Homo sapiens: one gene and its partners. The protein of the gene in region 1 interacts with the protein of each later gene in a pairwise test. Each region holds a gene or a part of one and is shown in the gene's direction. Other genes may lie near its edges. The genes, in order: KLF11, LARP4B, DXO and CNST.

Region 1 (7,132 bases):
AAGCAAGAAAAAGCAAGGAAATGCACAGAGCAGTTAACTCAGCAATTCCAGTTCTAAGAGCTGCTTATCCTGTAGTTATCCTTCCAGGTGGGCAAATGATGGAGGGGCATGATGTTCCTGGAAAACTGGAAACCTAAAAGTCTTGGTTATTCAACCAGAATGTTAAATAAACAACACATCCATATGATGGAATATTACTTAACCATTACAAAGTATGATCGTTATGTACCAATTGCAATAAGCCCTTAGACTGAAAAGTCAGTAAGTGAGCCCAGGAGGTATACAGCACTACCCTCTGTAGCAGCAAGCGTGCATAGCCACAGGCTCTCTCTGGAACGACACAGGAGAAAGTGGTGGCATTCTGGCCTGCAGGCTCACGCTCTCCCCTTAGGGGATGTTATCTGTGGCCACATCCAGTCTGCCTGCCAGACCATGCTCTTCCCGAGGGTCTACGGAGCCTGGTGCCAGTAGTCTTAGTTCAGTCTCCAAGTGAATGATTCGCAATAGTCTGTAGCTTACAAATTGCCATCCCTCTGACTGCGGGCAGGGCCAGATTCAGGGGTTTGGCGACGACCACAGACTGTCTGTCCATCTGGAAGATGGGCTAGATGTGCGCAGAACAGGGGCTCATGGCTGAAGAGGGCACAGTTCCCACATGCGCCTGCTGTCCAAGGAGCAGAAACAGACCCTGGGGCAAGAGAAGCCAGAGTGCCAGTTCAGGGAGAGCTGCTGCCGCCTTCTGTCCTGCAGGAAAGAAGACTTGGCAAGGTCACACCGGCAAAACAAGGATTTGTATGCAGGTCTGACTCCAAAGCCCGGGCATGCTGCCTTCTGCAGAGGCCAATCAGGGAGGGCTTCACTGGGGAGTCATATGCAGTCTTTTTTTCTTTTTTTTTTTCTTTTTTGAGACGGAGTTTCACTCTTGTAGCCCAGGCTGGAGTGCAATGGCATGACCTCGGCTCACTGCAACCTCTGCTTCCTGGGTTCAAGCGATTCTCCTGCCTCAGCCTCCCGAGTAGCTAGGATTACTGGCTGATTTTTTGTATTTTTAGTAGAGACGGGGTTTCACCATGCTGGCCAGGCTGGCCTCAAACTCCTGACCTCAGGTGATCTGTCTGCCTCGGCCTCTTGAAGTGCTGGGATTACAGGCGTGAGCCACCGCGCCCGGCGGTCTCATGCAGTTTTGCAAAGTCAAAGCAGACGAGGGTTGGCATGTTCCACGCAGAAGGAATGCTGTCTAGAAACAGAAGAGAGTGGCGTGACCTTGAGAGTACAGGGTTCTGTATTGGGTCAGTGGGGGCAGGAAGGCAGCAGGGAAAGCAATTTGGGAAACTGGTCAGAAATGATGCAGGAAGTGCTGGCTGGAGCCTGGCTACAAAGACTCATGGGTTCCTGGCCATGGAGCCTGAAGTCAGTCCTATAACTGTTTGGATTCCAACTGACGGCTTGAATACAGGTTCAGCTCCACCTCTGCTTCCAGAAGATCATTCTGGCAGTGAGGTGAGGGCAGATTGTAGGGCGTCTGGCTGGAGGGAGGGAGACCTGTTGGGAGGCAGTGGCAACAATTCAGGTGAGCAGGTGGTGGCCAGGACAAGGGCTGGCGTGGGTGACATAAGAGTTTGAGAGGAACTGAGAAGGAAGAAGGGCATGTAATTGGCGGAAGACAGCAACTGTGCGAAAGGGAGGAGGTAAAGGTGACGCTCAGGTTTCTAGATCAAGGAACAGGGTCTCCAGTTGTACCCTTCACGGAGGTGAGAAATCCAGATTTGGCTGGAATCCGAGTTCAGTTTTTTGTTTGTTTTTTTGAGACTGAGTCTCTGACGCCCAGGCTGGAGTGCAGTGGTGCGATCTCGGCTCACTGCAATCTCTGCCTCCTGGGTTCAAGCGATTCTCCTGCCTTAGTCTCCTGAGTAGCTGGGATTACAGGCGCCTGCCACCGTGCCAGGCTAATTTTTGTATTTTTAGAAGAGACGGGGTTTCATCATGTTGGCCGGGCTGGTCTTCAACTCCTGACCTCAGGTGATCCGCCCGCCTCGGCCTCCCAAAGTGCTGGGATTACAGGCGTGAGCCACCGCGCCCGGCCCTGAGTTCAGTTTTTTTAAGGACACAATTAGAGGTGCTCACGGGATGTTCAAGCAGGGAGGCTGGTGGATACCTTCGATTCGCTCGTTCACCTACGTGGACTTATTAAACAGCCAGGCTCCCTGGCCTTGGGAGAGTCCTTCTGGTGGGGAGACAGATGATAAATAACTGAAGTAATGGAAAAGGGGCAGTTCAAGAAAAGTGTTGTGGAGGAAGAAAACAAGAAAGCCCGCCAGAAGGGGACTGGAGGTCGGCCCCGAGGGTGTGTCCGCTAGAGGGGGCCTCTCCAGGTGGACTGCGGGTGAGAGTAAAGGGGGCATGTGGGGGAAAAGCATTCTAGGGAACAGCAAGTGCGAGGACCTGGAGACGGCAGAGGGGCTGGTGGGACAGGCGCCCAAGAGGAGGCCCAGGCTGTCCCTCCGGGGCGTGGGGAGAGGCATGGGGCTGGGTCCCTGCAGGAGCTCACAAGCCACAGTGGGGAGCAGAAGCGTTACGCTGAGTACAGTGGGAGCCACTGAAAGGGTTAAAGACCCCTGGGGGTGCTGAGTGGGAAGAGGCTCTGGGAGCTGGAGTGGACGCAGGGAGACCAGTTATAAGGCGAATGCAGGAGTCCAGGCAAAAGAGAATATTCCAGTGTGTATCTTAAGACTTAACTTTTTACACACAGAACACCCTGCGCCCCTCTCAGAGCCTCCGGGGTCTTCATGCGAGCAGTTTATCACGGTTCTTTCGTCTTAAACCCTCTTACTATTTCAGCAAACACCCTCTCCTCAGCCTGGTCAACCCCTCTGCCCAACCCGAGTGGGCCCCGAAGGAACAAGTGGGGACCAGAGTCCTGCTCATGTGAGTGGTGGGGCCCAGCCCGTTCCCCTAAGACCAGAATTCTCTCGCTCAGAGCAAAGCCCCGGGGTGCCGGGATTCTCTCTCTGCTCCCGCTCCCTGGATGGAGCTTTTAAAAAAGGAGGATTCCTCACTGCGGCCTCTGCCCCTTGCACTGAGCGCCAACCCGCATCACAGCTCAGCAAAGGCGCGCGCAGTGAACAGACGGAGGAGGGGTGGCTCCTCGCTGAGCTGAAGGCTGCGGCGACGAAAATAAACAGCATGGTTCCTGCTCTCCACGAACCTGGCGCTGCAGACGTGGGCAAACCACACCAAGAGACGCGAGCAACCGAAATATAGGGAGAAAAAAAAAGGTGCCCTGGACAGCGGGCTAGATGTCTCCTGCAGGCTCGAGGACTTCCCGGAGGGGGCGGCGTTTTCTCGGGGCCTGGGAAGAATGGGCGGGTTTCAGCGGGCGCCTTCTGGGTGACTGCCCGTTTCGGCTTCCCCTGACCCCGTAACAGAGCGGAAGAGGCCCAGAGACGCCAGAGGAGGGGCGTCAGCGGGACACTCAGGCCAATAAGCTCTGACTCCCGCTGTCTGCAAAAATGACCGGATGCAGGAATGTCACCTAGAACCGGCCAGCTTTCCGACCTCTCCGGTCAAGGACGCATTCCTAAGAGACGAAGGGAGAATGACAGAAGTTAAAAACAACCAAACAAAAGCCAGGTTGAGGCCTCTAGGTGGGTCTCCGCTACCGATGGATTCAGCCGGTGGGGCTGCAGGAGGTTCCTATAAGCGTGGTCCCCTCTCCCCGCACCGAGTCCGGCCCCGGCCCTGGGATTTCCCCAGCCGCCGCCCCGCCCCCTCCGCCCCGCCGCCCCCGCCGCCCCGCCGCCCCCTCCGCCCCCGCCGCCCCCTCCGCCCCCGCCGCCCCCTCCGCCCCGCTTGCCCCTGGCGCCGCTGCGACCTTTCCCTTACTTTCCAGGGCCTCAGGCCCCGCCCCTCGCTCCGACCAAAACACGTGCCGCGTCCCGCCCTGCCCGATCACGCCGCGGCCAGGCTCCGATCACGCGGCCCCCCGCGGCGCTCATTGGCCGGCCGGGCACGAATTGGCTGGTGGTGGCCGGCCCCGCCCCGGCAGGGGCGCGGTGTATTTTGGTTCGCCTCCGCGCCCCGCCCCGCCAGCCGCTCCCTCCGCGGCCGCCCCGCCCCTCCCGCGCCGCGAGGGCCGCGCCGGGGCAGAGCCGCGCGGGCGGGCGAGGCGCGTGCCGGCCGCAGGAGCTCCGGGTTGCCGCCGCCGCCGCCGCCCGCAGCCCACGTGCGGCCGCTGCTGCGCCCGAGCTCACGCCCCGCGGCCGCTTTGTTGCTCCCGGCCGGCCTGCACGATGCACACGCCGGACTTCGCAGGCCCAGACGACGCGCGCGCAGTGAGTGGTGGGGCTGCCGCGGCGGGACTACTCGTCTGAGCGAGGGGCGAGGCGGGGGAAGTGGTGCGGCACTCGCGCGCCTGTAAATGCGGGAGGTGGGGCGTGCAGGGCTTCGCTGCGGCCGCGCCGGTAGGGGCCTGGGCGGGCTCCGGAGCCGGGCGGGGCGGCGGCCGCGACGGGCGCGCCCGGGTCGGCGGGGGCGAGGAGGGGGCGTGTTCCCCGCGCAGCTTTGTCTTGCGCTTCCTGGGCGGCCCCGCCCCGCTGGCCCCGCGGCTATTTCCAGCCATGACGTCACCCCGGTCCTGTGAGCCGGACGGCCGTTGGGCGGGGGAGCGGCTGGCGGGAACGCGGCACGCGGCCTTGGGGGCGGGGCAAGAGCTGCTGGCGGGAACGCGGCACGGTTTTGGGGGCGGGGCACGCGGCCGTCGGGCGGGTTAAGAGCGGCTAGCGGTAGTGCCGCTCGGGCCTGGGGGCGGGCAAGGTCTAGGGGCCGGGGCAACGACGGGAGGCGGGAGCGCCGCACTGCCTTGGAGGCGGGGCAACGCTTGGAGGCGGGAACGCGGCACGCGAGCGTTGGGGGCCCTAAGCGTCGCGACCTGGGGGCTTCGGGGAGGTAGCCGTGGACGTGGGCAGAGCGCGGGCCTCGTGGTGTGCGGGCACTGTGGGCCGGGCGAGCCCCTTCCCGCCCGTGTGGTGAGTCGGCCTCGGCGCCCGGTTCTGTGACATCACAGGGGGTTTAGTGGCGCAGCCTGCGGGACAGAGGCCGGGGATTTGAGGTGGCCTCGTCTTGTTTGATCTCGGGGAACCTCGGCAGACGGAAAGCTTTGATGCTTTGGTGCATGGCAGATAGAGAGGAAACGTGTATCTTCGTACATTTAAAGTTTCCTTTCCTTTTTTTTTTTTTTGATAGGGAGTCTCGCTCTATCGCCCAGGCCGGAGTGCAGTGGGCGCGCGATCTCGGCCCACTGTAACCTCCCTGGGAGGGAGGGGTATTACTCTTCTCAGAGTAATATCACCCTCTCGCCCCCGGCTTAGTTTTCTTTTGGAAGAGATCAGCTCATTCCAGCCTCTTCCCTCCTCCCCTCCAGATTAAAGAGACGGTGAGGGTCTGGTGCGGTGGCTCACGTCTGTAATCCCAGCACTCTGGGAGACCGAGGTGGGCGGATCACCTGAGGCCGGGCTTTCGAGACCAGCTTGACCAACATGGGGAAAACCGCTCTCTACTAAAAATACAAAAATCAGCTGAGCATGGTGGTGGGCGCCTGTAATCCCAGCTACTGGGGAGGCTGAGGCAGGAGAGTCGCTTGAACCTGGGAGGCAGAAGTTGTGGTGAGCCGAGATGGTGCCACTGCACTCCAGCCTGGGCAACAGAGCAAGACTCTGTCTCAAAAAAACAAGGCCGGGCGCCTGTAATCCCAGCACTTGGGGAGGTCAAGGCGGGTGGATCGCCTGAGGTCAGGAGTTGGAGACCAGCCTGGCCAACATGGTGAAACCCCGTCTCTACTAAAAATACGAAATTTTCTGGGCGTGGTGGCGGACGCCTCCCAGCTACTCTGGAGGCTGAGGCAGGAGAATCGCTTGAACCCGGGAGGTCAGTTCAAGGCCAGCTTGACCAACATAGCAAAACTCTCTTTCTACTAAAAATACAAAAATTACCCAAGTGTGGTGGCGGGCACTGCAGTGAGCCGAGATTGTGCCACTGCACTCCAGCCTGGGCAACTGAGACTCCATCTCAAAAAGAAAAAAAAAACTGCAAAGAGATCCTCTCCGGGTTCGCGGCAGGTTGGCTTCTTGTCACCACCTGCTAGCCTTGGGACAGTAACAGATGACTTCCACTCCCGAATCTGTGGAGGGAACTGGTGGAATCGCCATGGGCCCTACCTGCGTGGAGTGCTGGAAGCCTAGGCGGAAGGCCCCAGAGTCCCTGAGAGCATCTGTAGGGACACTGCTTTGGCGGCTTTGCCGCCTCAGAGAGCCATGGTCAGGGCGCCGCGGCCACTGGCAGACCGACTAGATGGCCTCAGTGTTGGCTCCTCCTCCCTGGGCAGCTGCTCCTCCTCCCAGCCACTTTTTGGCTTGAACCTCAGGAGTTAATTTTATTAATCATTTACCCAAGAAAAATATGAACTTAGTAGCCCTTTTTAAGAGTCAGGATTTTTGGTGGCAACGCTTGCCAGCTTAGTTCTGTCTGTGAAATGTTGGCTTAAAAGCCGAATTGTCATGAGCATTCCTTGAATGTCTTTTACTACACCTCGGTGTTTGTTGCTATAGACTATTGCATGTGCATTACATGCCTACTGTAGGCTTCTGATATGCATATCCACATGCCCATCATGGGTGGCCTCTGTATTTCCCCTGCACTGAGAAGCCGTTGTGTTGTGTCGCCTTTAGGTTGACATCATGGACATATGTGAGTCCATCCTGGAGAGGAAGCGGCATGACAGCGAAAGGTCTACTTGCAGCATCTTGGAGCAGACAGACATGGAAGCTGTCGAGGCTCTTGTTTGTATGAGCTCCTGGGGTCAAAGATCCCAGAAAGGTGACCTGTTGCGGATAAGACCCCTCACGCCTGTCTCTGACTCTGGGGATGTCACCACCACTGTGCATATGGATGCAGCCACACCTGAACTACCAAAAGACTTCCATTCTTTATCGACTCTGGTAAGAGGAGGTGGGAGGGAGGAGCGTTTTTGTGAAATGACTAGAGTAGCTGAACTCAGTGTGTTGAAGAACTTGTGAGAAGATTCCCTGGGATGCTGGCAAATAAGTTGCGTATCCTCTCTGTGTGGGTCTGAAGGAGT
Region 2 (7,022 bases), on another chromosome or scaffold:
GCTGTTGGAGAAGCTGAAGTGGGAAGATCGCTTGAGCTTGGGAGGTTGAGGCTGCAGTGAGCCATGATCCTGCCACTGCACTCCATCCTGGACAACAGTGAGACCTTGTCTCCCCCCACCCCCAAAACATGCAAATTGGGACATCAAATTGTTAATGGTGTTTACAATGAACAGTGCCTTCAGGTAGCTGCAGCTACTCTACATAGATTTGCAAGTTTTTGTAGTGATAGGCTATGGTAGATGTTACCAGCCAAGGAGTGGCTGACAAACTCCTTTCACTGTTATTTCATTGTCATGTTAAAATTCATATTTTCCGTCAAAATAGTGATAGCTAGGATTATAATCTAGGTCTTCTAATCTTAGTAACGTGTTGTCTATGTTAGGGCCTCTCAAAGTTGTAAAAAAGCTGTATAGATGTGTTACCATCAATCGATTTCATTTGTTTTTATCCTAGTGTTAAAGGTACAAGTTTTTTTTTTTTTTTCTTTCCTGAGGCGGACTTTCACTCTTGTCGCCCAAGCTGGAGTGCAATGGTGCGTTCTTGGCTCACTGCATCCTCCGCCTCTCGGGTTCAGGTGATTCTCCTGCCTCAGCCTCCCGAGTAGCTGGGATTACAGGTGCCCTCCACCACACCTGGCTAATTTTTTTTTTTTTTGTATTTTTAGTAGAGTTGGGATTTCACCATGTTGGCCAGGCTGGTCTTGAACTCCTGACCGCAGGTGATTCGCCCGCCTCGGCCTCCCAAAGTGCTGGGATTGCAGGCGTGAGCCACGGCGTACCTGGCCAAAGGTACAAGTTTTAAATATGCTTTTATCATGCATACAGTACTCTTATAGATTCTGTCAGATTTAGGGATATTCTTTTCAGATTGATAAATTGCACAAAAATCTTGGAGTATATTCTTGTAATTTCTTCTACAAAATTCTCAAAACAACCTTTTTCCAATGGGGAGAAGACATGAACACTGAAGTCATGTTTTTGGAAAATACCTTGTTAAAAACAGACACTGCTGTAAGGGTTTCCTTGCTTATGCTCTTTTGTAGAACTTTATTGATGTGAAGAGTTCTCCTTTTTCTGTAAAAGCTTATTTTAGAGTACGAAGTAAATGAGGCACTCAGAGAGTTAACCTCATCAGGTCTGAGTTTAGTTCAGTTTAAACTTTTTGCTCTTATGCTGGTTGATATCTTTGTAACTACTCTACTTCTAGAGTTATTTTGATTGGAAAATGAATTCCTTTTTTAGAACATGGAATTGTAAGGTAGAAAACTGCTAGGTTCTCAAAAGAAGGGAGATAAATTCCAACTTGAAAGTTTTTTCCCCTAACGTTCTAATGCTTTGTTTTTCCTGTGTGTAAATGCCTTCCTTAGGAACAAGGAAAATTATTAACTCAGCTGTGTTTCCTTCCCTTCTCTTTCTCACTGCCCCCCCGCCACCCCATACCTTAATACCTTTTGTCCCTTCAATGCCTTTATAAACTCTGTCTTCTCATAGTTTTTCTGGTGAAGCTGTCATGGCTCCTATTTCAACCATAAAGGATTTGCAGTTCAGTGATGCTACTGGTTTTACATCTTCTTTCCCATCAACCCCATTGCCCTGGTTAGGAGACCTAGACCATGGAGTACATTGCAATATTGAAAGTATTTCATGTTTAACACAATTTTTTTTTTTTTTTTTGAGACCGAGTCTCGTTCTGTTGCCCAGGCTGGAGCGCACTGGCACGATCACGGCTCACTGCAACCTCTGCCTCCAGGGTTTAAGCGATTCCCCTGCCTCAGCCTCCTGAGTAGCTGGGACTACATACAGGTGCGTGCCACCACGCCCGGCTAATTTTTGTACTTTAGTACAAATTGGGTTTCACTGTGTTGGCCAGGCTGGTCTTGAACTTCTGACCTCAAGTGACCCATCTGCCTTGGCCTCCCAGAGTGCTGGGATTACAGGCGTGAGCCACTGCGCCCGGCCATGTTTAACACAAATTTGAAAGCGTACTGCTTAGTTTTTTAGGGGGAGTATGATAATCATAGAGATGAGACTTGATCTTTGCTGAAAGTGTTCTTTATGAAGTCTGATGTGCATAAATTTGCCCAATAAAATGCTCTTTTATTTACACAAATCATTTTAGTCGCACTGTAGCCAGAGTGTGGCATAGCCTGATGGCTGGCCTCTTTTCAGAAACTCATCAGGACTGCCCTAGGCCTCGCCCTGTGTGTGCTTCCACTTCTGTGTCTTCCTTCTTGCCCTGCCCCACCTTTTAATCAGGACCACGCCTCCCTCTCCTACCTTGGTGTTGCAAACGTTGTAGCCATTGCTGTTGGTAGATTCTTTGACTGAAATTGAATGTCCACCTCCTTTAAAAAAATTTTTAAAATATTTACTTAGCTCCTTAAACCATCCTTAAAAAGATATTTTAGGAGTCCTCCAGACTGCTTTGCATTAACTTCTGAGATTATGCTTCTCTGTTTCTGTAGCAACTAAGTGTACCTTTGTGTTACTTAGCACATAATTAATGTAAGCTCCTTGTGAGTGAGATTCTCTTTTTATGCTTGTCACCTCTGCCCAGCCCAGGGACTGGTAAACTGTAGATGTTTAGTGAAAGTAATTCAAGTAAAGAGATAAGAATGCTCAAAGACATCTCCCACCTGTGTTCCAGAGAAATTGTTTGCTGATTGTATACTTGCACATTTCTGTAAACAAATAGGAAAATCTTTACTCAAAAAGCATACATTAGAAAGTTTCTTATAGAGTATAAAAGTTATATTTACAAGTTTTTAACTGACTTTTCATAGCTACATTTAGCGCATAAAGTATTTTCAGATAGAGTAATTTAGCCACATGACCTTTAAATTATACTGTTTCTCAGTCTTTAAAAACGTGCCCTCTTTCGGCCAGGCACTTTGATTCACGCCTGTAATCCCAGCACTCTGGGAGGCCGAGGCGGGTGGATCACCTGAGGTTAGGAGTTCGAGACCAGCCTGGCCAACATGGTGAAAACCTGTCTGTACTAAAAATACAAAAATTAGCCAGGCGTGGTGGTGCGTGCTCGTAATCCCAGCTACTTGGGAGGCTGAGGCGGGAGAATTGCTTAAACCCGGGAGGCAGAGGTTGCAGTGATCTGAGATCACACCACTGCACTCCAGCCTGGGCGACAGAGTGAGGCTCTGTCTGAAAAAAAATGAAATAAAATAAAATAAATGCCCCCTTTTAGATAGCCATAGAATTTCTTACCTTTATTTTGCTTTAAAATAAAAACATCATGTTAACCCAAAATGAAACAATTGCAATATTGAAAATGTATCTTTTAAACTTTAGTGGATGTTTTTCCATTTTTTATTTTCTGTTAAGTATTGCTAAAGGGCCTGGCATAAAGGAGGGCCACTGAGATTACGGTAAGAAAAGGGTTCATTTTCTTCCTGTGGCAGGTGTTCTGACCAGTTGAACACTAGGGATGCAAAGATGAAAGGCAACAGGATTTTTCTGTAAGGCCCGTCATCCAGCAGGAATAGGAAAGTGCATTGTTCTATGTAAAGCCATAGAGACTGGCCTCTGGAAGTGGCTGGCTCTCAGCTGCATGCTTCTTTGGATAGTCTGCTACAACAGTCACATATATTATGGTGTATCCTGCCCTGCACTCTCCTTGTCTCCCCTTCTTGCTGTACTTTTTTCATAGTATTTATGACACTATAACATACCATATAATTTACTTACTAATTTATGTATGGCCCGTCTTCTCATACTTGAATGTAAACTCTTATGAGATCAAGATTTATATTTTGCTCCTCAGTATGAACCTAAGCCTTAGAACAATATCTGGTAGGTAGCATGCGCTAAATAGTTGATGAGTAGATCCCAGTATGGTGAACAAGAGGGATAGATTGCCATCTCTTGGAGTTTGGTGTCCATTGAGACAGGTGGACAATCACATAATCCAATAAGAAAGTGCAGTGCACTGACATCCGGCCTGGATGGGAGGGATCAGAAGGCTTCCCTGAGGTTGTGATGGTGGCACCGAGGTTGGAGGGATGGTGGTGGAGTGAGAGGTCAGCAGAGAGAATTACCTGTGTAGTGCCCCAAGTGGGAAAGGTGCAGAGTGCTTTGAAGGAACTAGTGTGAACAAGGCTGAAGGAAGAGAACGCGGCTGGGAGGTAGGTGGAGAGTTTTATTTTACAGAGCTTGGGAGGTCCCATATAGGTTGATTATTTTGCCCTTTATCCTAAGACCAGTGGGAAGCAGTTGGAGGATTTTATGTCATAGAATTGTCTTTTTTAAATGATTCTGCTTTGCAGAGTCGTGTGGAAGCAGGGAGTGGTCACATGTGGGTGTTACTGGGCGGCAAGGTAGGGAATCTCTTTCTTCTTGTGTACACCTCTCTTCATAGTTGAAAAGGCCAAGCCCCAGTCTAAATGAGACCAGCCAGCTTCCTTAAAATCCCTTTAATTTGTATTACATATAATCGTGTATGTTTAAAAAATATTTTATTTTTTTGAGACAGTTTGTGTCACCCAGGCTGGAGTCCAGTGGCATGCTCACAGCTCTCTGCAGCCTCGACCTGGGCTTGAGCGATCTTGCCACCTTAGCCTCCCGAGTAGCTGGGACCCATGGGTGCATGCCACCACACCTGGCTAATTAAAAAAAAAATTTTTTTTTGTAGAGGTGGCGGGTCTCACTATGTTGCCCAGTCTGGTCTCGAATTCCTGGGTTCAAGCAGTCCCAGAGTGTTGGGATTACAGATGTGAGCCATTGCACCTGGCCTAAAAATGCTTTAAAATTTGTTTATAAAATATGTCTTAAATTTGCTAATATTTGCCAGTTGTTTAAAGTATATTTGTTATTTCAGATAATTTCAAACATGCCTTTTTTAGGAGTGTCTCTGAAAAATGAGAACATTTTGTTTTCACATTTCAGAGAGCTTTGTTTTTATTGTCAGTGCTCAAAATACAGAGATGAAAACCTAGTGATCAATTTGGTATAGATGTACAAATTGCTTCAGTTATTGTTATCTGTTAACATGTTGAACATTCTCTTTTTAAAAATATCAGGTCCTTTAAAATTTTCTTTAAAGGTGGCTTCATGCTTTTCTGAGCATTCTTTTTATCTTTGTTGATTACATATTTGTATTTCATTGTTGAGATTATCGTCTGTGTAATTTTTGCCTTATCAGTCAGAGAATACCAGTAACCTTTAGGAGGCATGTACAGATTTTTTTTTTTTTTTTTACTGGGTCCATAAAGGGGGAAAGTTTGGTCAGGTTGGGGAGCAGTCACACTTCTTCCTGAGAGGTAGTAAATACCAGGCTCTCCATCTGGAGGAGGGGTCAGTAAATCACGTTTGCAAAGGAAAAGATGCGGTAATTGGTAGGATTCAGACCTGTGCCGGGAAACCCCAATGGATTTCTAGTTCATTGCTTTAACCATTCAGTCCTGACTTTAAAAGTAGACTTGAAGTCCCTATGGGAAGCTACCTTCTAAAAATCTAGACATTTGAAAGGATGAAAGCATTGTCTCTTGTGCTTTTAGGAGGTTAAAAACATTTAAACCACGGATAGAACACTGGCATTTAGTGTTTCTTGAGTACTGTAAATACAGTAGCTTACTGTGAAAGTCTTTTTGGGTGGACTTCTGTCTGGCATGATTTGTTTTTTTTTTTGAGGTGGAGTCTCACCTGTTTCCCAGGCTGGAGTGCAGTGGCACAGTCTCCGCTCACTGGAAGTTCTGCCTCCCAGGTTCACGCCATTCTCCTGCCTCAGCCTCCCAAGTAACTGGGACTGCAGGCGTGTGCCACCACGCCCAGCTGATTTCTTTGTATTTTTAGTAGAGACGGGGTTTCACCATGTTAGCCAGGATGGACTCAATCTCCTGACCTCAAGCAATCTGCCTGCCTTGGCCTCCCAAAGTGTTGGGATTACAGGCGTGAGCCACTGTGCCCGGCCTGCGTAGCATGATTTTAAGTTCTATGTTCCATATTCCTCTGTGGTTAATATCCATACCTCCAGTGATACTTGTTATTTATTTATTTATTTATTTATTTATTTATTTATTTATTTAACAGACGGGGTCTCGTTCTGTTGCCCAGGCTGCAGGAGTGGAGTGTAGTGGTGTGGCCACTGCTCACTGCAGCCTCCAATTTCTGAGCTCCAGTGATCCTCCTGGCTATTTAAATAATAATTTTTTGAGACATGAGGTCTTGCCATGTCACCCAGGCTGGCCTCAGTCTCCTGGCCTCAAGTGATCCTCCAGCCTCAGCCTCCCAGGTTGCTGGGAATATGAGTGTGAGCCCCTGTGCCTTGCTCCATTGACAGTTGTTACCAGGCTAAATTGCTAGTTCAGGTTGCCTTTCAGTGGGTCACTTGGAGCAGGGGTCCCTAACTCCCAGGTTGTCCGACCCGTACCCATCATGGCCTGGTAGGAACTGCGCTGCACAGCAGGAGGTGAGCAGCAGGGTGAGTGAGCATTACTGCCTGAGCTCCACCTCCTCTCAGATGAGCAGTTGCGCTAGATTCTCATAAGAGCTCAAATCCTACTGTGCACTGCACATGCAAGGGATCTAGGTCGCATGCTCCTTATGAGAATCTAGTGCCTGATGATCTGAGGTGGAACAGTTTCATCCTGAAAGCATCCTCCTCACCACCCCCCACCCCCTGACCCCTCCGCTCTGTCTGTGGAAAAATTGTCTTGCATGAAACCTGTCAGTCCCTGGTGCCAAAAAAGATTGGTTACCGCTGACTTGGAGTACTGACCATTGTGAAAATGAGTAACTGATGAATCAGCAATAGTTGCTTCTTCACGCTGTCAGTGAAGACCAAAGAATGAATATGGGAAGCAGTATTACCAGTGTTGCTGCGTGTGCACGTGGCCTTCAGTTTTTCCCTGCTCTTCCCATTTCTTTGTACACACCGATGAATTTAATCTCTTCTGCTGAAATCATTATTCTTTAGGGCTCAGTACAGGAGAGTTAAACCTAAGCATGAAAGGACTGGAAATGGGATGTAGAATTGCCAAATAAACTGTAGAAGCATTGAGGCACTTAAA
Region 3 (7,553 bases), on another chromosome or scaffold:
GTTTCGCTGTGTTGGCCGGGCTGGTCTCCAGCTCCTAACCGCGAGTGATCCGCCAGCCTCGGCCTCCGGAGGTGCCGCGATTGCAGACGGTGTCTGGTTCACTCAGTGCTCAATGGTGCCCAGGCTGGAGTGCAGTGGCGGGATCTCGGCTTGCTACAACCTCCACCTCCCAGCCGCCTGCCTTGGCCTCCCAAAGTGCCCAGAGTGCAGCCTCTGCCCGGCCGCCACCCCGTCTGGGAAGTGAGGGGCGTCTCTGCCTGGCCGCCCATCGTCTGGGATGTGAGGAGCCCCTCTGCCTGGCTGCCCAGTCTGGAAAGTGAGGAGTGTCTCTGCCCGGCCGCCATCCCATCTAGGAAGTGAGGAGCGTCTCTGCCCGGCCGCTCATCGTCTGAGATGTGGGGAGCGCCTTTGCCCCGCCGCCCCGTCTGGGATGTGAGGAGCGCCTCTGCCCGGCCGCGACCCCGTCTGGGAGGTGAGGAGGGTCTCTGCCCAGCCTCCCCGTCTGAGAAGGGAGGAGACCCTCCGCCCGGCAGCCGCCCCGTCTGAGAAGTGAGGAGCATCTCCGCCCGGCAGCCGCCCCCTCCAGGAGGGAGGTGGGGGGGTCAGCCCCCTGCCCGGCCAGCCACCCCGTCCGGGAGGTGAGGGGCGCCCCTGCCCAGCCACCCCTACTGGGAAGTGAGGAGCCCCTCTGCCCGGCCAGCCGCCCTGTCCGGGAGGGAGGTGGGGGGGTCAGCCCCCCACGCAGCCAGCCGCCCCGTCCGGGAGGGAGGTGGGGGGTCAGCCCCCCACCCGGCCAGCCGCCCCGTCTGGGAGGGAGGTGGTGGGGTCAGCCCCCCCCGCCCGGCCAGCCGCCTCGTCCGGGAGGTGAGGGGCGCCTCTGCCCGGCCGCCCCTACTGGGAAGTGAGGAGCCCCTCTGCCCGGCCAGCCGCCCCGTCCGGGAGGGAGGTGGGGGGGTCAGCCCCCCGCCCGGCCAGCCGCCCTGTCCGGGAGGTGAGGGGCGCCTCTGCCCGGCCGCCCCTGCTGGGAAGTGAGGAGCCCCTCTGCCCGGCCACCACCCCATCTGGGAGGTGTGCCCAACAGCTCATTGAGAACGGGCCACGATGACAATGGTGGTTTTGTGGACTAGAAAGCGGGAAAAGGTGGGGAAAAGATTGAGAAATCGGATGGTTGCCGTGTCTGTGTGGAAAGAGGTAGACATGGGAGACTTTTCAAAAAAAAAAAAAAATAGTGGAATTATCAAAAAGACAATTAAAAAAAAAAAAAACAGCACTTTGGGAGGCCGAGGCAGGCAGATCATCTGAGTCAGGAGTTTGAGACCAGCCTGGCCAACAGGGTGAAACCCCATCCCTATAAAAATACAAAATTAGGCCGGGTGCGGTGGATCATGCCTGTAATCCCAGCACTTTGGGAGGCCGAGGAGGGCAGATCACGAGGTCAGGAGATCAAGACCATTATGGCCAACATGATGAAACCCCCATCTCTACTAAAAATACCAAAATTAGCTGGGCATGGTGGCGCGTGCCTGTAGTCTCAGCTAATCAGGACAGTGAGGCAGGAGAATTGCTTGAACCCAGGAGGCAGAGGTTGCAGTGAGTTGAGATCACACCACTGCACTCCAGCCTGGGCAACAGAGCGACACTCCACCTCAAAAAAAAAAAAAAAAAAGGGAAAACTAAGGCAACAATGACCACAGCAGTCACCTCCCAGGGACATTCTGATCAGAGACATTTTGATCAGAGAGGGATATATGTGGGATACTGGTCATATTCTATAGTTTGACCTAGGGAGTGGCTAGATAGGTATCTGCTTTATAAACATCATTTAAATTATATATGTTTATATTTTCATTCTGCAACTTTTAAAGGTTTTTAAAAACAAAAGCTAACACCAATACATTAAAATCAACAAATACTCCTTAAGGAGTGGTTCCATCTGGCATGCTTCCTCACGGGAGACCTAGTCAGGGAGACTAGCTCACCTCAAGTGAGTGCTAGACTGCCTTCCTTTTCTTTCCTCTTTTCTTGAAAGATCACTATTAACCTTCTACCTGCTAAATCCAATGGACAGATTTCAGTTCTGGGTTTTTTTGTTGTTGTTTTCATTTTTTTAGAGACAGGGTCTCCCTCTGTTACCCAGCCTGGAGTGCAGTCGTGCAATCATAGCTCACTGCAGCCTCAAATTCCTGGGCTCAAGCACTCCTTCTGCCTCAACTTCCCAAACAGCTAGAACAATAGGTGCACACCACCATGCCCAGCTAAGAATTTTTGTGTTTTAATTTATTTATTTAGTAGAGATGGGATCTCAGTTATTTAGTAAAGATGGGGTCTCACTTTGTTGCCCAGGCTGGTCTCAAACTTTTGGTTTCAAGCTATACTCCTGCCTCAGTCTCCCAAAGTGGTGGGAGTACAGGCATGAGCCACCACACTCAGCCTAGATTTCAGTTTATATTTTACTTTACCTCTTCCCTCTTCTTAGACCACTGTCTTGAATCACAGGTTCTAATACTGCCAACTACTTCACTTTCTCAAAAATCTCTTTACTTTCACAGTAGGCCTCTTCCTGGGTTACTTTTTTTTTTTTTTTTTTTGAGACAAAGTCTAGCTCTATCACCCAGGGTGGGGTGCAGCGGTGCTATCTCAGCTCACTGCAACCTCCGCCTCCCCAGCTCAAGCAATCCTCCCACCTCAGCCTCCCCAGTAGCTCTATAGGCGCGTACCACCACGCCTGGCTAATTTTTGTATTTTTTGTAGAGATGGGGTTATGTCATGTTGCCCATGCTGGTATCAAACTCATGAGCTCAAGAGATCCACCCACCTCGGCCTCCCAAAGTGCTGGGATTACAGGTGTGAGCCACCGCGCCGGCCTCTGGGTTCCTCTTAACTCAGGCAAGTCCCTCTCTGCCTCTGTCACAGATTCCTCTTCTTCTGCTTTCCCTTTATGTCAGTGGATCTCAAATTTTAAGGCACACTTAAAAAGCACTTGAGGCAGTTCAAAAATGTAGAGTCCCAAATCCCGCCCCAAGAGAGCGTAATTCATTAACCTTGGATGAGTCCCAGGAACCTGTATTTTTTTTAACAAGCAGCCCACGTAATTTTGACACAGGCATAATAACTCAGCTCATATATTCAGTAACACTGCCTTAAATGATGGTGTTTCCCAGCATTGTGGATTTGACCCTATTAACTTCCACTCTAAACCTGGAGTCCTTAACCACGGACCTCGCAGGATTAGTAAAATATTTCCCCCCTAACTATACATACACCCTATGTATATGTGGCAAACGTGCATTTTTCTGGAGAGAGATAGCCATAGCTTTTATCACCTTCTAAAGATTACAAAAAGGTTAGAAATCACTCCTCTACCCACTCTTCCTACTGGATCTCACCACATCACAGAATTAACCACTTGCTATTCACACCTCCATGACTTGTAATTCTATTATCACTGGCCCAGAATTCTCTCCAACTCTCATATCCAACTGTCTAATACCTTTGTCTTTGGATGCTCCACATGCACCATCAACTCAACTTGTATAAAATTAAACACATTATCTGTAGTCCAACAACTAAATGTGCTCCTAATACCACCAGCCACGCAGTCATCTGGAAAGTCTGAGTTGTCCTGGACTCCTCCCTCTTCCTCACTCTCCTCTCCCTCCCTACTGCACTGACCTAATTTAGGCCTTCACCACTTCTCAGATGCAGTATCTTCTTAGCTGACCTCCCTGCCTCATCCACTATCTCCAATACACCATTCCCTCTCTCTATGATATTCTCTACCAGCCCATCGCCTCAGTGTAAGATGGAAACAACACTGATGTACAAGGCCTGTCATGATCTGACGTCTGACTGCACTCCCAGCGCTGTATGTTCGAACCATGCCCCATGACTCGGTTTCCCCAAAAGCCTCGTTCTTCTACCTCCATGATTTGAAATGCCCTGTACTACCTGCGGGACTTTTAACAGGGTCTCTGTGGCACCCCAGTGCCTGGCACAGTGCCCTCGCCTGAAAGGCCTAATGCTTGCTGAACGGCTGGCGGAGTGACTGAGTGACAGGGAATTCCAGGAGTTAGGAAAGGGGCTTCCGGCGGTCGCACCGACGCCCCTCACCAGCTGCCGGTCGGCCACGGTCCTGTCAGGCACAAGGCTGTACACCTGGCTCCTCAGCACGATGGGCGGCAGCGCGTCCTCAAACAGGCCTCGCGGGAACAGCTGCATGAGTTCTGAGACAGCCGCGCGCGCCGACCCTGGGCAGATAAATCGGCTCACGGACAGGGAACTGGGGCGGGGACGCGGTTCTAACAAAACTCTCGGCTACCGGAAGCGAGGCCCCACCCCCGGGGTTGCCATGGTTACCTGGCTCACCCCGAAGAGGATCCGACTCCACAGGCCCTCGCTTCCGCCGCCTCTTAACTCCAAAGGTCTCCGGGATCAGGTGATGCCTCTTCCAGCTCATATCCCGGGATTTTATGGTACCGGGGAAGGGGTAGGAATGGAGGGAAGAGAACCTGAAAATAGGGTCTTCCGGCGCAGAGCAGTGACGTACGGTCTCCCCGGGCGTCCCTCCTAGACCAGGTGATGACGAAAGGAGCGTCAACTTGTCGTCCCTCAGGCCCGTCAGTGCTGGGAGGGGCGGTGGCGACGCACATACCAGCATCACCTCCGCCAGGCCGGGCCCCACGCCGGCCGCGGATTGGCTCCCTCCAAGGGCACGCACGCCCGGGGACTCGTTGGCGGCGTGGAGGGGCGCCGGTGGCCACGTTGGTGTCAACCTCCTTCGTGAAGCTCACACCTCCCCCGCCCCGGGAGGGGTTTGCCCGCCACTGTCGCTGAATGATTGCATCATCGAAAGCAGAAAACCACTTTTGCATCCTTCGGCCTCTGGCGTGCCTGCCATGACGTCATAGCTCTGCGGAGGTGGAAGTTGGGGAGCTTTGAGGTAACTGGATTCTTGATCTGAGCGCAGACGTCCTTCCTAACCTCACTGCATTTGGAGGACCTGGAGGGAGGGTGGGTGAAGGGCAAGGAAAGAGGCAGGATGAGAGCTTGGCCGCGGTGGCGTCTGAGGGGCCTGAATGTTTCAAGGCCAGAGCCTGGCGATCAGGTGGCTCGCTTAGTCCTAAACCAGTCATCCTTCTCCAGGCCTCCTCTGTAGAATGGAAACTCTGTACCCCTGCTTGTCTTAGGACCTCATGGATCCCAGGGGGACCAAGAGAGGAGCTGAGAAGACAGAGGTAGCTGAGCCTCGGAACAAACTACCTCGTCCAGCACCTTCTCTGCCCACAGACCCTGCCCTCTACTCTGGGCCCTTTCCTTTCTACCGGCGCCCTTCGGAACTGGGCTGCTTCTCCCTGGATGCTCAACGCCAGTACCATGGAGATGCCCGAGCCCTGCGCTACTATAGCCCACCCCCCACTAACGGTCCAGGCCCCAACTTTGACCTCAGAGACGGATACCCGGATCGATACCAGCCCCGGGACGAGGAGGTCCAGGAAAGGCTGGACCACCTGCTGTGCTGGCTCCTGGAACACCGAGGCCGGTTGGAGGGGTGAGCAAAGCGTGGTAGGCAGTATATCTGGAGACCCGTACCTACCCTCTAAAATTAGGAGAGCCAAAGCCGGGGTGAGAATCAGTCCTTAGAAGAAACAAGACTATTCTTCGAGGGGAGCATCTCACTAATGCTTGTGTCAGACCTTCAGCCTGTAACTCCTGCCTCTCAGGGGTCCAGGCTGGCTGGCAGAGGCCATAGTGACGTGGCGGGGGCACCTGACAAAACTGCTGACGACACCGTATGAGCGGCAGGAGGGCTGGCAGCTGGCAGCCTCCCGGTTCCAGGGAACACTATACCTGAGTGAAGTGGAGACACCGAACGCTCGGGCCCAGAGGCTTGCTCGGCCACCGCTCCTCCGGGAGCTTATGTACATGGGATACAAATTTGAGCAGTACATGTGTGCAGGTGAGTTGCCCCTGCTTCATAGCCCCCTTCCCCTTCCCAGAGGTTGAGAGCCCCCCACGCCTGCTGCTGCTTCTCTCCTTGTGCAGACAAACCTGGAAGCTCCCCAGACCCCTCTGGGGAGGTTAACACCAACGTGGCCTTCTGCTCTGTGCTACGCAGCCGCCTGGGAAGCCACCCTCTGCTCTTCTCAGGGGAGGTAGACTGCACAGACCCCCAAGCCCCATCCACACAGCCCCCAACCTGCTATGTGGAGCTCAAGACCTCCAAGGAGATGCACAGCCCTGGCCAATGGAGGAGTTTCTACAGGTTCAGGATCGGGGTGGGCAGGGCGAGAGCTTAGGCTTGAAGGCTGGGAAAGGGACTTGGGGAGGAGGGTGAAGGCAGAATGGAGGGTGCACGAGGGGTCCCACTGATCCCTTGCTTTTCCTGTCAGACACAAGCTCCTGAAATGGTGGGCTCAGTCATTCCTCCCAGGGGTCCCGAATGTTGTTGCTGGCTTCCGTAACCCAGACGGTTTTGTCTCTTCCCTCAAGACCTTTCCTACCATGAAGATGTTTGAATATGTCAGGGTAAGGGAACGATGTTGCAGCTCCCACCCGTATCCCCAAACACCAAGACCACAGGTCTAGCATCCAGGGCAACAGCCTGCCTTCTCTCCTCCCACCACCCCCACTGCCCATCTTCTGCCTCCTCCTCTGCCTGCTCCAGAATGACCGTGACGGCTGGAATCCCTCTGTGTGCATGAACTTCTGTGCCGCCTTCCTTAGCTTTGCCCAGAGCACGGTTGTCCAGGATGACCCCAGGTGAGGCATTCAGCTCTGTCCCTCCCCTCTGGATCCCAGGATCCAGCCTCTGGCCCTCAACTGATGCCTCCATCTGCCCCCCAGGCTCGTTCATCTCTTCTCTTGGGAGCCTGGCGGCCCAGTCACCGTGTCTGTACACCAAGATGCACCTTACGCCTTCCTGCCCATATGGTATGTGGAAGCTATGACTCAGGACCTCCCATCACCCCCCAAGACTCCCTCTCCCAAATAGTAATGCTTTAGAGGGAGGCAGTCATATCTCTGTGTGCAGATAATAAAAGCATATTTCTAAGAGGTTCTCTCGCTGTCTTCTTAGCTGAGTCATCCCTGTCCAGCAACTCAAGCACACAACAGTGCTTTGCTGTTTTATCATCATGTTTTTACATGGGGCATTCACTGGGTGTAGAGGCTGGCCGCAAATACGATGTCCCGCCGTAGCAAGGTAGCCGCTGTCTCCATCTTGGCACCCAGCACAGGCTCTCCTACCAGGCGGGCTGCCCCCCGCAGTGAGCGACACATCTCAGCCAGGCGCTGAATGCAGCGGACCACCAGGCCCTCAGGGGTCCCTGAGAGCCCTGCCAACTCGGAGAAGGGCTGTGGGGAAAGTAGGGTGAGGACTGGATGCACTCAGCCTGGGCAGGTTCTCCCCAGCCAGCCGTCTGCAAAATCCCAAACCTCAGGTACTCACCATGCCCCGGGCCCACTCATATACAACCTCAACCAGCCCAAAATTCAGCTCCCCCACAAATTCCTCCACCGTCTGGTTCAGGCCACAAGCCACCTGGACCTCACCA
Region 4 (7,022 bases), on another chromosome or scaffold:
CTTCCTACACTGAGAGTCTGATTCTGTGGGGTAAATTAAAAACTCCTCTTCCTGAAGTACTGCGGTATTTAATTTGAGAAGTTTCTATGCAGGAAGAGAGTTCTAAGTCTCTTCCTTTTAGTGTTTTTGTTTTGTTTTGTTTGTTTTGAGACAGATTCTCATTCTATTGCCCAGGCTGGAGTGCAGTGGCAGTCCCGGAGCCCTGAACTCCTGGGATCAAATGATCCACCTCAACCTCTCAAAGTGTTGAGATTACAGGCGTAGCCACCATGCCCAGCCTCTTTCTCTTAGTGTTGACTGTGTTAACGTTGAGCCCCATGCTTGTTTAATGAGGCTCATAAGATGAATAGTGTTCAGTCATTTCCTGGCGTGTCATTGTTACTAGTTATTTACATCTGCACGTCAACAGTGTGTCAAGGCACAGTATGAGTTTCTGTCGACTAAATTGTAGGGAGAACTTGAGGACCTTCAAGAAGATTGAACTTTATTGTGAACAGGTAGAGTACCTGTTGTTGCAGAGTTATTTTCTGAGTCAGTTTCAGGTAAGGCTAAGAGTTTTATAAATGTGCTTCTTTATATCATGGTGTTTCTTACCAAGGGAAAGATCAAATCTTTGAGCAAAATTTAGAAAGGAAGAGAGTAGGTTTTATGGCTGTAGAATGCTGGGAGCCTGAGTAAAGTAAAAGATTAACTTGTGTATGGTGGTTTAGGGGAATTTAAAAGGAAAGATGGCAGTTTTTATATAAAGCAACTGACATACTGTCTCCATACGTGCTTCAAGTTGTTTTTGCAACAAGGGTGGTGATTTACGTAGAACCGTCAGTGGTTCAGAGCTGCTGTAACAAAGGTAACTCTAAAGCCAGTTAACCTCCATGGGGATCAGTCAGACCCATCATTGTTCCTGTCTTGACCTCTGTGCTCTAATAAACTTCCCTAAATACTACTTTAGCTGCTGTGTGTTATATCTACATTAATAGCTAAATTAGCCTGAAGGCCTAATTAATATTCAGTGTAATTTAATACAGGAAACATGCCCTCTTCTCAACCTTTATAGTATGAAGAAATTTTAAATTACCTGGTCAGTGAACAAACTCCCTCTGTCAAATATAGTCATGATAGACCTGGCACAATGTAGGGACTATGGGGAGTGTTAGAGGATCAAAGACAGAATTGGGGAAGGGGTATAGTTACTGGATGTTACTTGTTCTGTGAGAGATGTGTGGATGTTCTATAAGAAAATAATAATGTTTTTTGTTTGTATTTAAAACTAGATAGCTGTTTATTGGCACCCTTTTAGTTGGATAAGAGAAAATACATTGCTTGGTTTCTACAAGTGAGTCTTAGCAAATTTATTGTAGTTATTTTAGGAAGAGTAATTGATAGTGCAGTAATCTTCAGTTTTTAAAAAGCCCTGATAAGGTTTAACTGGGCTTTAAAAGCATTATATGCTTAATGAGAAATTCTAACTTAATATATGTATGTCTTGATACTGTTATGTAACCTTTCCAGTTTAGGGCCTTCAAGATTCACATGAATACAGGCTTTCCTTTATGTAGGAATCATTCTCATGGGGGAAATTATATATCCTCTCAGGGAATAATTTTGTTTTTTAAGCATTTGAAATAATTGTTTGTAATATTCGTTAAAGAACACATCATTAGCAGAATTCTGAAGTCTTATAATAGCTTGAGATTTCTTAAATTGTTTTTATCCTTTTTGAGACAGTCTTGCTCTGTCGCCCAGGGTGGAGTGCAGTGGTACGAGATCTCAGCTCACTGCAACCTCCACCTCCTGGGTTCAAGTGATTCTCCTGCCTCAGCCTCCCAAGTAGCTGAGATTACAGGCGTGTGCCACCACACCCAGCTAATTTTTTGTATTTTTAGTAGAGACAGGGTTTCACTATGTTGGCCAGGCTGGTTTCAAACTCCTGACCTCAAGTGATCCGCCCACCTCAGCCTCCCAAAGTGCTGGGATTAAAGGCGTGAGCCACTGTGCCAGGCCAAATGGTTTTTATCTTAGTTTTGAGATCCTGCTCTTTAACATTTTGGAGATGGAAACTTTTTGCCATTATACCCTCCACCCTTCCGTCTCTTAGGACTTCCTGTTTTTCATCATCATTAGCCACGTGGAAAGGAAAGACAGTGTGTGCCTATGAAAATACTGACAAATCAAGATGATTTTTCCTTTTAGATTAAGAAAAATTCTGAAACAGTAAATGGTAAATTTTGTCATATTTATTTACTTATTTTAGAGATGAGGTCTCACTATGTTGCCCAGATTAGCCTTGAACTCCTGGGCTCAAGTGATCCTCCTGCTGTAGCCTCCTGAGCTGGGGCTATAGGCATGTGCCACACTGTCTGGTTAGTCACCCTTCATTGACATTTGGGCATTTGATATTTAAATTGACAGTATCTAGGCAATTATAGAAATTAACATTATTTTGCAATTGGCATATGTATTAAATTTTCTTATGAGAATAATTGCCCTGTTTTTTTCTGGAGAGCCACTACCTGATTAAATAATCACATATTTTTTCTACCTTAGCTGCATTTTGAAAACTCAGTGAATTAGGTGACTGTGGTTTTCTAATTTGAATGAAGGTAAAGTAACCTTTAAAAATGGTTTTTGGCCAGTCACAGCCATGCCTGGGACTCACGCCTGTAGTCCTAGCTACTCTGGAGGCTGAGGTGGGAGGATCACCTAAGCACAGGAGGTCAAGGCTGCAGTGAAGCATGACTGCACCACTGTGCTCTGCACTCCAGCCTGGGTGACAGAGTAAGACCCTGTCTCAAAAATACATACATAAATGAATTAAATACTTTTTTATATTATAGATTTTGAAATAAGTTATTAAAAAATTTGGGAACTTTATAAGATCAAATGCTGCTGTCCTTGAGTATTTGATAGTATACTGCTTATATTTTGATTTTTTGTATGCATTGTCCTTGTTCATTATTTTTCTCTTCTGCAGCTTTTATTCCCAGTATACAACTAAATCTTAAAAATAATTTTTAGATGAACTGAAAAACATTGCCTAAGATTTTTCAATAAGGATTTTTGTGAAAATGTGTGTGGTTTGTTATTTAGAGATGAGATCTCACTGTTTTGCCCAGGCTAGTCCTGAACTCCTGGGCTCAAGTGATCCTCCTGCCTTGACTTCCCAAAATACTGGGATTATAGACGTGAGCCACCACTCCCAGCCAAATGTATGTTTTATTTATTGAATAATAAATAGTGGAGTTATTTATTTATGTGTGTGATATGTGGTTTTTTTAATTATTAATTTTTTAGAAAAATAGAAGCAGGGTTTCGCCATGTTGCCTAGGGTGGTCTTGAACTCCTGAGCTCGAGCAGAGTGCCTACTTCAGCCTCTCAAAGTGCTGGGATTACAGGTGTGAGTCACTGCACCAGGCCTGAGTTATTTGTTTTTACCTCATGAAACAACAACTAACATTTTAGATTTTTTTTTCCACTTGTGAAGCATGAAAAAGTTTACTTAAATTGGATCTTACAAGGATTCATGTAACCAACAGGATTTCCTCCCTCAGCGTCAACTCACATGAAAAGAGGGGTGGACGTTTGTGCAAATTATACTGGTTATGATATTGTGAAATGTAGTTTCCTGGAAAAGTCATTATTGATACCCATTTTTGGCATCTTAATTCAAATTCAGCCATCAGGCTTTATTTTAAATGATTTACACAGCAATCTCTAGATTCTTCTTGCTACAAGTATTTTAAAAATTTTGTTGTGGAGTTCTTCGGCATGCCAGTTAGAGTTATACCTGTAGCATTGGATAAGCACTGTAAAGAGCCAAAATTAGAGGTAATACCCTTGCTCTTCCCTACTTTAATCATGTAATATAGGTCTTGTGACTTGGAAGAAGATTGTCTTATTACCATTACATTTGAACTTTTGTTTTAAAATTAATCTGTTAGATCATATATTCACCAAAGCTCATCTTTTCACTAGCCAGAGAAAGCTGTATTTCAAAATAACCTAAAGTAAAATAGTATTTAATTCAAGAAGTTAGTTTTTATTATATCAGGTGGCCTCTTGGTTGGTTATAGTTTCGTGCATTCTGATGCCTGCGGGCTTTTTATCCTTCCTGTCTCCACTGCATAGCTGGGGAAAACCTAGGGATTGCCCGGTGAATGCCAACAGAGCTTTAACCTGTGTGTCCATGGCTTGCCTTCCCTGAAGCCTCAAAGAGAACAGCTGCGAGTGCAAAAACCTTATGAGCAAAATTTCTGCTCCAGGAACACTTATCTGGGCTGAGGAAACATATTCTAAGAATATCTGTTTTGTAACTAAAGCTTCCATGTACTTGTGTAACGCTTTGTGTAAAACCACGTACTTTGTATAGCCTTTGCTGGAGAGTTTCCATTTTCCTCCAGCTCTTCAGTGTAAGTGAAAAAATGTGCCCAGAATGTCTCTATAGATTATTCTGCCTTCCCTCACCTTTTAGTTTTTTCCATGGAAAGCTGACAGGTCAGAATAGGCATATTTTATTAGAAACTCGAAGTGGTGGGGGGTAGAAGTACACATCTTTGCCTCTTTTTTCCTTCTTGATTACAGAAGTAATAATGCTCCAAAGATGTTTTTTAATAAAACTGAGTCTCGCTCTGTTGCCCAGGCTGGAGTGCAGTGGCGTGATCTCAGCTCACTGCAAGCTCCACTACTCCTGGGTTCACGCCATTCTCCCGCCTCAGCCTCCGGAGTGGCTGGGACTACAGGCACCCGCCACCGCGCCCGGCTAATTTTTTGTATTTTTATTAGAGACGGGATTTCACCGTGTTAGCCAGGATGGTCTCGATCTCCTTACCTTGTGATCCGCCCGCCTCGGCCTCCCAAAGTGTTGGGATTACAGGCGTGAGCCACCGCTCCCAGCCGCTCCAAAGATTTTTTAAAAAGATAAATAAATTTTAACTTGAGGAAAACATGGTTATTCAAAAATTCGTGTTTTTTCTTTTTCTTTAAAAAAAATTTTTTTTAGAGACAGCTTGTCGCACTATCACCCAGGTTGCCATGCAGTGGCAAGATTATAGCTCCGTGCAGCCTCAAACTCCTGGACTCAAGCAATCCTCCCACTTCAGCCTCCCTAGTAGCTGGGACTGCAGGTATGCAGTCTAATTTTTTTTTTTTAACTTTTTGCAGAGATAGGGCCTCCCTGTGTTGCCCCAGCTGGTCTAGAACTCCTGGCCTCCTCCAGGAGCGATCCTCCAGCCTTGGCCTCCCAAAGCACAATACGTGTATTTTTCAGAGGGAATTCTCAACTTTCATCAGATTTTTCAAGGAATATGTTACTCAAAAAAGGACAACAACCACAGCATCAGTTTGACTTGGTTGGTTATTGCATGTCCTTCCTAAATCTCTCTTATAAGCAGCTATGGCTTTATAAGGATTCCTATGTAAAAGCATCATTTTTAGTAGTATTTTATTTAAAACAAAAATAATTTAATAGATTATGAAGGAAAGTCATAGTGAGTCAAAGAACAAATCTGAACAAATCTTCCTCAAGTATTTTATTTATTTATTTATTTATTTATTTATTTATTTATTTTTGAGACAGAGTCTCACTCTGTTGCCCAGGCTGGAGTGCAGTGGCACGATCTTGGCTCACTGCAGCCTCCACCTCCCGGGTTCAAGTGATTCTCGCCTCAGCCTCCCGAGTAGCTGGGATTACAGGCACCCGCCGCCAAGCCTGGCTAATTTTTGTATTTTCAGTAGAGACGGGGTTTCATCATGTTGGCCAGGCTGGTCTTGAACTCCTGACCTCCTGACCTTTTGTCAAGTGTTCAGACAAAAACGTGCACAAATGTTTATAACAGCATTATTCACAGGAGTCAAAAAGTAGAAACAGCCCAAATGTCCATCAACTGATGAATAGATAAATAAAAGGTGGTATATCTGTACAGTGGAAGATTCTTTGGCAATAAAAAGAAATGAAGTATCAGTATATAGTACAACATGGATACCCCTTGAAAACATGCTGAGTGAAAGAAGCTAATTGCAATAGACCGCATATTGTATAATTCCATTTACGTGAAATGTCCAGAATATGTAAATCTATAGAGACAGAAAGTACATGAGTGGTTTGAGTGATTGCCTGGGGCTGTGGTGGGGGTGCAGGAGAATGGGAAATCACTGCTAGTGGGTATGTAGGGCAGGGGGGATCTTTTCGGGGTGATAAGATGTTCTAGAATTGATTGTGTACAATTTGTGAATACTAAAAGCTATTGAATTGTGCATTTTAAGTGGGTGAATTGTATGGTATATGAATTATATGTCGATAAAGGTGTCATGAAACTCAACTAGAAAAAATACAAGTTTATCATAGAAAATATGTAAAATACAGAGAAGTGGAAGAGGAAAAAAGTAATTAGCATTTTTAAAAATTCCCTATTTTTATTTCAATGATAAAAAATAATATAAGCTTATTCAAGAACAATACTGACACTTTAAAACAACATTCTCATATAAGATTTCAGTGCTCTCTGGGCGCGGTGGCTCGCGCCTGTAACGCCTGTAATCCCAGCACTTTGGGAGGCCGAGGCGAGCAGATCACTTGAGGTCAGGAATTCAAGACCAGCCTGGCCAACATGGTGAAACCGTGTCCCTACTAAAAATGCAAAAATTAGCCAGGCATGGTGGCGGGCGCCTGTAATCCCAGATACTCTGGAGGCTGAGGCAGGAGAATTGGTTGAACCCGGGAGGTGGAGCTTGCAGTGAGCCGAAATGGCGCCATTGCACTCCAGCCTGGGCGACAGAGCCAGACTCCGTCTCAAAAAAAAAAAAAAAAAAAGAAACAAAGATTTCTCAGTAATTGGTGGTGGGAGAGTTGGATCCTCACGTGCCTATGATAACCGTGCAGTCACAGTGTATACCGTATTCCACTAGTGAACAAAACTTTAATTTTTACAGAGCAGCATCGTGTTCAGTGACTATTATTTTAACTTTATTGATTTTTTTTGCATGTCATAATTCGTAAATTTGTTTTGGTTTAATTGTGTTAGAGTTAG

Evidence for each region.
Region 2: the proteins of KLF11 (region 1) and LARP4B interact in binary tests that used the Homo sapiens proteins (3 or more experiments, as listed by UniProt).
Region 3: the proteins of KLF11 (region 1) and DXO interact in binary tests that used the Homo sapiens proteins (3 or more experiments, as listed by UniProt).
Region 4: the proteins of KLF11 (region 1) and CNST interact in binary tests that used the Homo sapiens proteins (3 or more experiments, as listed by UniProt).

What each region holds. Positions count from the first base shown.
Region 1 is NC_000002.12:10,039,428-10,046,559, forward strand, and holds the start of KLF11 (Krueppel-like factor 11), read left to right. Parts: upstream 1-4,122; 5' UTR 4,123-4,289; coding exon 4,290-4,331; intron 4,332-4,401; exon of another isoform or gene 4,402-4,460; intron 4,461-4,793; exon of another isoform or gene 4,794-5,024; intron 5,025-5,904; exon of another isoform or gene 5,905-5,922; intron 5,923-6,722; coding exon 6,723-6,992; intron 6,993-7,132. UniProt on the Homo sapiens protein: Transcription factor. Activates the epsilon- and gamma-globin gene promoters and, to a much lower degree, the beta-globin gene and represses promoters containing SP1-like binding inhibiting cell growth.
Region 2 is NC_000010.11:921,692-928,713, reverse strand, and holds part of LARP4B (la-related protein 4B), read left to right. Parts: intron 1-49; exon of another isoform or gene 50-7,022. UniProt on the Homo sapiens protein: Stimulates mRNA translation.
Region 3 is NC_000006.12:31,969,315-31,976,867, reverse strand, and holds DXO (decapping and exoribonuclease protein), read left to right. Parts: upstream 1-4,871; 5' UTR 4,872-4,939; exon of another isoform or gene 4,940-5,186; 5' UTR 5,187-5,192; coding exon 5,193-5,548; exon of another isoform or gene 5,549-5,562; intron 5,563-5,593; exon of another isoform or gene 5,594-5,693; intron 5,694-5,720; coding exon 5,721-5,956; intron 5,957-6,042; coding exon 6,043-6,262; intron 6,263-6,389; coding exon 6,390-6,525; intron 6,526-6,600; exon of another isoform or gene 6,601-6,664; coding exon 6,665-6,759; intron 6,760-6,843; coding exon 6,844-6,991; 3' UTR 6,992-7,053; downstream 7,054-7,553. Other genes in the region: WHR1 (winged helix repair factor 1), read right to left, coding at 4,111-4,247, 4,357-4,566, 4,652-4,871; SKIC2 (superkiller complex protein 2), read right to left, coding at 7,153-7,353, 7,448-7,553. UniProt on the Homo sapiens protein: Decapping enzyme for NAD-capped RNAs: specifically hydrolyzes the nicotinamide adenine dinucleotide (NAD) cap from a subset of RNAs by removing the entire NAD moiety from the 5'-end of an NAD-capped RNA.
Region 4 is NC_000001.11:246,569,449-246,576,470, forward strand, and holds part of CNST (consortin), read left to right. Parts: intron 1-420; exon of another isoform or gene 421-425; coding exon of another isoform or gene 426-542; intron 543-7,022. UniProt on the Homo sapiens protein: Required for targeting of connexins to the plasma membrane.